Linked DNA regions of Homo sapiens: region 1 is linked to region 2. Evidence: fine-mapped expression QTL. A gene starts in region 2. The other region holds a variant in brackets. All regions are shown on one strand. Distances are between the middles of the regions. Region 1 overlaps LOC107986150 (a long non-coding RNA gene). Region 2 holds the start of LINC02067 (long intergenic non-protein coding RNA 2067).

Region 1 (4,536 bases), 44 kb before region 2:
AAACATCTTTCTCCCTTATGTATTATGAAAATTCATAGCAACTCTAGCGTAGTGACATTTTGCTGTGGAGAATTTGGCATTCGTTGTGAAGGTATTATTTTAATTTCTGTCAAATTAAACTTTCAGGTCAGGGTTGCTATTAGGGATGAAAAGAGCAAATCCAGAATGAAAGTAAGAAGTAAGAAGATAAGGCAACAAGACAATTCAGATGTCAAGATTAAACAACAGGAAAAGAAGCCCATGGAAACAGAGTGGCAACTGGAAGTAAAACCATGGTCTTTCATGGATAGTTCTGTCCCAGTCTTCATCTCATCTAGTGATCTGTACTTTAAATTTATTTGATGACTTGGTGGGAGGATTCGGGGAGGTTAGAGAAGCATCTCAGTGGTTTTAAGTACATTCACAGGGTTGTGCAACCATCATCACTATCTAAGTCTACAACATTTTCATGACCTGAAAAAGAAGCCCCATACTTGTTAGCAGTCACTTCTCGTTCTTCCACCGCCACTGCCAATCCTAGGCAGCCATTAATCTACTTGCTGTCTCTACATATTTGTCTATTCTGGACATATTATATAAATGGAATCATACAATATGTCGCCTTTTGTGACTGTTTTATTTTACTTAGCATAATATTTTCTGCTCACTGTTGAGGAGGGCAACTGGCACATAGTGGGTGCTCAAAAAATATTTACAGAATGAAGAATAAGAAATGGAAAAGTTTCTACCTTCATGCTTGGAGTTGGGAGGTGAGTGGATCCATTCCCTACTCTGGTCATTCATGTTGTAATATGTATTAGTACTTCATTCCTTTTTATTTGCTGAATCGTATTCTATTGTGTGGCTGTCCTATATTTTGTTTATCCATTTCGTCAGTTGATGGACATTTGGGTTGTTTTCCCTTTGGGGTGATTATGAGTAATGTGGCTAAGAACATTTTGTGTGGACATATGTTTTCATTTCTCTTAGGTATATGAGATATGATAGTGGAATGGCTGGGTCATATGATAACTCTGTGTTTAACTTTGAGGTACTGCCAAGTTATTTTTCAAGGTGTTTGCACCATTTTACATTCCTACGCATAATGTATGAGGTTCCAACTTCTTCACATCCTGACCAATGCTTGTTATTGTTTGTGATTTTAGCCATTCTTATGGGTGTGAAGTGGTATCTCATTGTGGTTTTCATTTATGCTTTTCTAATTAATAATTATATTTAGCATCTTTCCATGTGTTTATAGGTCATTTGTACATCTTTGGAGAAATGTCTATTCAAATTATTTACCCATTTTTAAACTGGGATATTTGTCTTTTTATGTACAGTTGTAAGAGTTTTTTAAATATATTCTGGGTACAAGTCCCCTGTCAGATATATGATTTGCAAAGAGTTTCTCCCATCTTATGGTCTGTCTTTTCACTTTCTTGATGGTGTCCTTTGAAACACACAAGTTGTTAATTTTGGTGAAGTCTAACTTATCTCTTTTTTTCCTTTGGTCTCTTATGAATTTGGTGTTTATGTAAGACACTATTACCTAATCCCAAATTATAGAGATTTTCCTCTAGTTTCCTTCTAGGAATTTTAGAGTTTTAGCTCTTACATTTAGATGTGTGATCCATTTTCAGTTGTCTTGTGCATGGTGTCAGGTAGGTATCCAAATTCATTCTTTTTCATGTGGATATCAAATTGTTCCAACACTGTTTGTTGAAAACAGTGTTCTTTCTCCATTGAATTGTCTTAGTACCCTTACCAAAATCAATTGACCATAAATGTAGGGAATTATTTCTGGGTACTCAATTCTATTCCATTGATCTATCTATCTAGCCTTATTCCAGTACCATGCTGTTTTGATTACTATAGCTTTATTCTAATAAGTTTTGAAATTTGGAAGTGTTGATCCTCCATTTTGTTCTTCTTTTTAAATCTTGTTTTGGCTATTATTTATTTTTTGCATTTTCTTATAAATTTTAAGATCATCTTGTCAATTTCTGTGAAAAAGGTAGCAGGAATTTTGATAGGTATTACTATCCTGTAATACAGATTTAATTTATAGATTAATTTGAGGATTATGCCACCTTAACAATATTAGGTGTTCTGATCCATGAACATGGGAGGGCTTTCCATTTACTTAGATCTTCTTTATTATCTTTTTCAATAGTATTTTGTAGTTTTCAGTGTACAAGTCTTGAATTTCTTTTGTTAAAAGTTTTTTAAAACTCCAAATGTAAATGAAGCTTAGTGATGTCCAGGAACGATGTCTTGGTCAACCCTGCATCCCTCCTACCAAGCTTAGTGTCTGGGTTAGTGTCTTGAATTGTGGCTGGCAATATTTGTACTTATCGAGGTGAGTTCAAAAAATATCTTTCATGTCCATAGAAAGTTGACAGTATCATCTCCTTTTTATTACAGCATTCCATTAAGAAAACAACATATATTAATGCCATTTAATAAGAATGGTAAATTATGGATAATATATTAAAGCCAAGATGGTTAACTGACATCGCCAAAGATATGCAGTCAATGTCAAATATAAAATTAGAGCACAACTCAACATTTCCCCCAGTGATACATTAATTCTAAAAGCCTTTAAGTCAAGAAAGACATGAGAAAGATAAAGGGAAAAAAGGGGGGTGGAACTAAGTGATTTTTATTGGATCATATACAAA[T/G]GTATATTGTCATATCATCCACCTTTTTTAGGGCTAAAAAAGGCTTTCAGTTAGGAAATGTACTTTTTTCTTGAACTTCTAAATTAGCTAAGTGTTTGAAAAGGAGACTTAAGAATTATCTCCATGCCACATATCAATGGCATTGACATGAATATTCCAGAATCTTGACTTAGTGAAAGTTAAGGTCAGACTCCCAAAGATGAAGCTAAAGATGTAGCAAATTTTCTAAACTCCCTTTTCCACTTGTGCTTCAAAGGTAGGAATCTCTTTAATGAGTTAACATTTCCTGGGATGTGGTCTGTGCTGCAGGATTTAGATTGAGCATCCAGTTAAACATCTGGCAGGGTGCTTAATAGAGAAACTCCTAAGGGGATGAAACTGGTGTTAAATTACCATGATTGAAAGGAGTGCAGGGTATGGATAACTAGCATTTACTGAGAACACTTATAAATCAGAATGGCATTGTCAAAGTGAGGCAACCAAATGGACCAAGAGGAGAGTGCTATACTGGCTAGATGTTATTGATTATGCAACTCTCATTCACAGGGGGAAATGAGGCCTATTGAGAATTTCTTGATGATGAAAACAGGAGGTGCAAGAAGAGAGATGCTTATTATCAAGGGTTTCAGACATTGTGCCCACAGGAGCTGCTGTGGTTGACTGAAACCTTTTAGATCTGAACTGGGTGAATGATGATGGCTGCCTGGATTCAACACCCATAAAATTTTCAATTATAAATGGTTAAAAAAGAAATAACTGAATACTCCCAGAAGTGTTCCTTACGGGAGCCAGGTTAAAACCTGTGGGAAATATAGGTAGAGGGGCAGAGGACTTCTAAAATGGGAGTGAAACAAAAGATCTTTCAGATGAGGTGTGAATTGAACTAATGTTAACTACATATTTATTATCCTATCAGTTGTCTGAGAGTCAAACCAATGACTTCATCATTAAGTGATGAAGGCCTTAAAATAAACTCTTGGCATATGTGGATGTAACATTTGTGGTTCCACTATATTTAAAGCATTCTAGAGGTCCATTAAATTTGTAATTTTGCTGAGACACAAGCTTGAATTCTGAATTTGATGTGAGAATGAGTAAGTTGATTGGTTAGGAAGTCACCTAGCTAGTGAGTAAGAAGTAATCTGAAACTAATTTTTATTTTGTTTTGAATTTGCCAGCACCTCTAGTAAAAATTAGCTCGGAGGTAATATGAATATTTACAATAAAATAGTTTAATTACTTGAGCTTTATTTTACCTTATCCCTGTCTCCCATTAACATTGATAATTCAGTTTATTTGGAGGAAATAGAGTGATTTCACATGTCTTTTTAAAAGTTTCTGAGAGATGGCAGATAGTAGAAAGCAAGGTTTTTGTCATGAAGCTGCATTTCCATAGTAAGTATCCAAATTTAATTCAGAAGAAAATTAGATAAAAATTGGAAGGGTTTAATTTTTAATCTTAGCTTCAAGTAGGCACATAGCTTCTTGAAAGGAATTAGATCACTGTTGTTGTTAAGAAAATTGAGATGCAATTTTGAAGAATAAGTTACGTAGGCATTTTCCTCAAACCATTAGCAAATAATATGTGATCAATTCCAAGGTGTGGCTTTTAATTTTCAAGGTGAAAGCTATTTTTCTGCGGTGGCTGTGTGGATGCAACACAATTTAGTGGAGGGCATGCTGAGAAGTATCTTCGAGAGGTCTTTGTAGGCTGTAAGAATGACAACATGAATTTAAGTCCTTCTGAGGACTAAGACTATTTAAAGTTTCAGGAGAACAGAGCCAGAGTTGTTCTTATGGGATTTAGCAATAAAGGACTTAATTTTGAGAATCAATTAACAAAATTGTGAATTTGGAACCATAGCAGGATCTG
Region 2 (4,000 bases):
GAATTATATTAGATAGAAGGCTTGAATAAGCAATGTACAAAAAATACATGATCAATCAACTTCTGGAAAAAGTGTTCAAATTTCATTAGCAATACAAAAATACAAAGTAAGAAAAGACTGATGTACTGTTTCATCTCTCAAATCAGCAGAAAGTTTGAAAACAAAGGGATAGTGTGAGCAAAAGGGCGTTCATATGGTTTGTAGGGACATAAAATGCTACTGCGTTCTCAATCTGGGGTTGTTTTGGTCGGAAGGCTCCGAAGATGCATAAAAATTTGAACATATTTGCCCTTTCCTGAGAAGAGATGCAAAATCCATCAGATTCTCAAAGGGATTCATTCTCTCAAATGTTAAGAACAAATGTTTAAATTATTTGGGAGAATAATTTGGCAAAATGTGCAAGAAAGTTATGCGTATGTGTATTCCAATATTGTTTTGAATGCTTAATCACTATAAACCACCTAAATATTCAACAGTGGGACATTTGAAATAAATCACACTCCAGTTCTATGATAGAGTCAATGTAGTTATTAACAATCGTGCTGTAGAATTAATGATGCCGAAATGTTCTTTATACATGATGAGGTAGAAAAAGCAGTTTGCCATTTAGTACATGTGATATGATCCTGAGTTTATTGAAACATAAACATATGACGTGCATGAGAAAATATTTGGGAGTATCCATGAAAAATCCCAATGCCAGTTTGGGTAACTAAATGCAATGTGCTTGTCTTTATTTTTAGATAAATTTACAATGAATATATTACTTTTGTAATAAAAAGCATGATAAATATAATATAAAAAGGAATGATTAATTTTCTATCTATTAGAAGATTTGACACAGGAGATTGTTAACTTTTAATTAATCAACTGAACTGAATAGGTACAATTTGAAAAAGCATTTTAGAGGACTGGAACAATAATTACGTAATACTCCACATTGTTACTCTCTGCAGAAAGACCTTCTTAATATTTAAAAGCAGTTTAAAAAATCTGTAAATTTCCAAGCAAATAGAAAAATCTGTGCTATTCTGGACTTTTACAAGACACTAGAGCCTTTGTGAGTCTTTTCTAGAGCAAGACAGAGTGAAATAAAATAGAATAAATTAAAATGAAATAATTTAAAAAATTAGAGCATTAGCAAAGGTAACTAGGCCACTTTAAATATACAAATAAACTCTTACAATTTTTTTTGTTATTTTTAGAAAAAAGTTTACACTTCCTTCACCTTTTAGGAGTGAAAGGAGCAAAGGAAGTAAGAAAGGCTTGGGCCGGATGTGGTGGCTCATGCCTGTAATCTCAGCACTTTGGGATGCCGAGTCGGTGGATCACCTGAGGTCAGGAGTTCGAGACCAGCCTGGCCAACATGGTGAAACCCTCGTCACTACTAAAAATACAAAAAATTAGCTGGGCATGGTGGTGGACACCTGTAATCCCAGCTACTAGGGAGGCTGAGGCAGGAGAATTGCTTGAACTCTGGAGGCAGAGGCTGCAGTGAGCCCAGATCATGCCACTGCACTCCAGCCTGGGCAACAACAGGAAAACTCCATCTCAAAAAGAAAAAAAAAAAGAAAAAAAGAAGAAGAGGAGGTGAGGGGAGGGAAGGGGAGAGGAGGAGAGGGGAGGGGAGGGGAGGGGAGGGGAAGGGAAGGGAGGGAAGCTTGGTAGAGGAGCAATGATTCCTGAACTGGCTTTTTTTTTTTTTCTTTTTAAACTACAGGTGACCAAACAGAACTTCTCCAGTACAAGTCTGTCTGTCATTCCATTTGACATTGTATTGTAGGCATAAGCCCTGCCTTCCAGTTCCTTGGCAGTGGTGAAGCAGTATGGAGCTGGGGCAGGGAGGTGGCACATTATAGGACTGTGAGAACACTGCTCCTTTATACATAAAATTCCTACACAATGGATCACTTGAGGTCAAGAGTTTGAGACCAGCCTGGCCAACATGGTGAGACCCTGTCTCTACTAAAAATACAAAAATTAGCCCAGCTTGGTGGCAGGCGCCTGTAATCCCATCTATTTGGGAGGCGAGGAATGAGAATTGCTTGAAGCCAGGAGGCGGAGGTTGCAGTGAGCCAAGACCATGCTACTGCACTCCAGCCTGGGTGGCTGGGTGAGACTGTGTCTCAAAACAAAAACAAAAAACAAAAAACAAAACAAACAAAACAAACAAAAAATTCCTACCCGAGAAGACTCATGACTCTGGAACACAGTGAGTGCAGCTGTTATGGTAAGTGAAACAGCTAATGATCTGGCAGAACCTTCAAGATACAAGGTAAAGAGAAAAAAGCCAGGCGCAGGGTAGTCCACTTGCTGTCTTTTGTGTGAATCTATCTGTGTTTTTAAATGCAGAGACTAAAGGAATTGGCGGTAGGTAGGCATCGCCTCCAGGGAGTGGAATTGGATTACTGGGAGGCACAGAGAGAGGTGTACTTTCTTTTCACTGCAAACCTTTTGTGCATCCAGCCTTCTGCCTTAAAAAAAAAAAAATCTGCATATGGATCATTCTTCAAACAACAGAAAAAGGAAACCAAATAAAAAAAAATCTACCCAAAGAAAATTTTTTCGTAATAAAAATTGTTCCAAGCCTCAGAGCTGGCTCCCATGTTTTGAGCAACATCAGCTATTCATGTATTCAGCTGAAGCTCATCCTTAGGTTTTTGATCAAGCTGTGCCATGTTTTTCATTTCCTTTGATAGGGTTTCTCAGTTCCCGTCTTGTCAGTGAAGTGGTTTTTAGTTGAACTGTTATTTGCAATAGATGAAAGTAAACAGTGCAAGACATTAATTGTGGTGTTTCTACTTTAAAAACAATCAGATAAAATTCTAGAACAAGATTTGCTGTTCGGTAGGAAGATCAGATTCTTTTCCCTATACACTTAATGCTACGTATTCATGCTCCAGTGCAGACTGCTGGCAAGGTAAAGAGGCTGACAACCAGAGTTGTAATTAGGTCCTGCTTGTTTCCTTTAGAGTTTACAGTCCAGAAAGTTCATGGAAATAATGAGAGTCTTATAGCATTTTGTTATGCATTGAAATGTATTCTCATATGTTAAAGTCCTAATCCCCAGTACTTTAGAATGTGACCTGATTTGGAAATAAGGTCATTACAGATGTAAGTAAAGATGAGGTCACACTGGAGTAAGGTGGGCTATAATCCAATATGAGCATGTCCTTGTAGAAAGGGAAAATATTTACACAGCCACATACACAGGGAGAACTCCATGTGAAGATGAAGGCAGAGACCAGAGTGATGGTTCTACCAGACAAGGAATGCTGAAGATTGGCAGCAAACTACCACATGCTAGGAGAGGGTAATGACACAGATTCTTCCTTGCAGCAATCAGAAGAAAGGACCCCTGCTAACACTGGATCTCTGGCTTCTGGGATCCAAAACGGTGAGACAATAAGTTTCTGTTGGTGAAGCTGCTTCATTTGTGGTAGTTTGTTGCAGCTGCCCTAGCAAACAACTACATATTCTAGTCCAATTAGAATCAAGAAGCAGAATAAAATTGGAAAAGAGAAGGCAGACCATGACAGGGTGGCCAAATTATCTCCTTCTTTTACAACTTTAAAATCTTTTTTAATGGTAAAAGAGCATTCTGTGTGTGAATAGCAAAATCGAGAAACTCCGGTTCCCAAATCGTCAAGAACCCTAACAGGTGTGATTGATTGAGCACTGACTACAGGTGCCAGCCCTGGTGCTTGGTGCTTTAACTGGATTATCTTTCTTTCTTACAGATAATGCACAAGGTTGATACAATTCTCTCCATGTTACAGGTGAAGACACTGAGACTCAGAGAAATAAGGGGAAAAAAAAAAAAAAAAAAAAAAAAAAAAAAAAAAATCCCAGGGCTGCACAGGTGTTAAGTAATGAGCTCAAGATTTGGGCCCAAGTTTGATCGGCACTGTCAAATTAAGAATTGCTAAACTATAAATTCATCAACTGTAATTTCGAGATGTTTCTCCAACCTTTCTTTTGAGTATGCAGGATTTGAATT

The links. PIP is the estimated chance that this variant, and not a neighbour inherited with it, causes the effect. A credible set is the group of variants that fine-mapping cannot tell apart.
Region 1: its variant is the best candidate, but not a certain one, in a credible set for the expression of LINC02067 in testis (GTEx, PIP 0.76).

What each region holds. Positions count from the first base shown.
Region 1 is chr3:161,379,768-161,384,303 of GRCh38, forward strand. It overlaps LOC107986150 (a long non-coding RNA gene), which reads left to right. Exons shown (of 3, transcript XR_007096152.1): 1 at 1-4,536. Among named protein-coding and RNA genes, the nearest start is that of SPTSSB, 11 kb to the left of the region's middle. The variant T/G (reference allele first, on the strand shown) is at 2,664.
Region 2 is chr3:161,424,261-161,428,260 of GRCh38, forward strand. It overlaps LINC02067 (long intergenic non-protein coding RNA 2067), which reads left to right and starts at 2,167. Exons shown (of 4, transcript NR_102265.2): 1 at 2,167-3,397.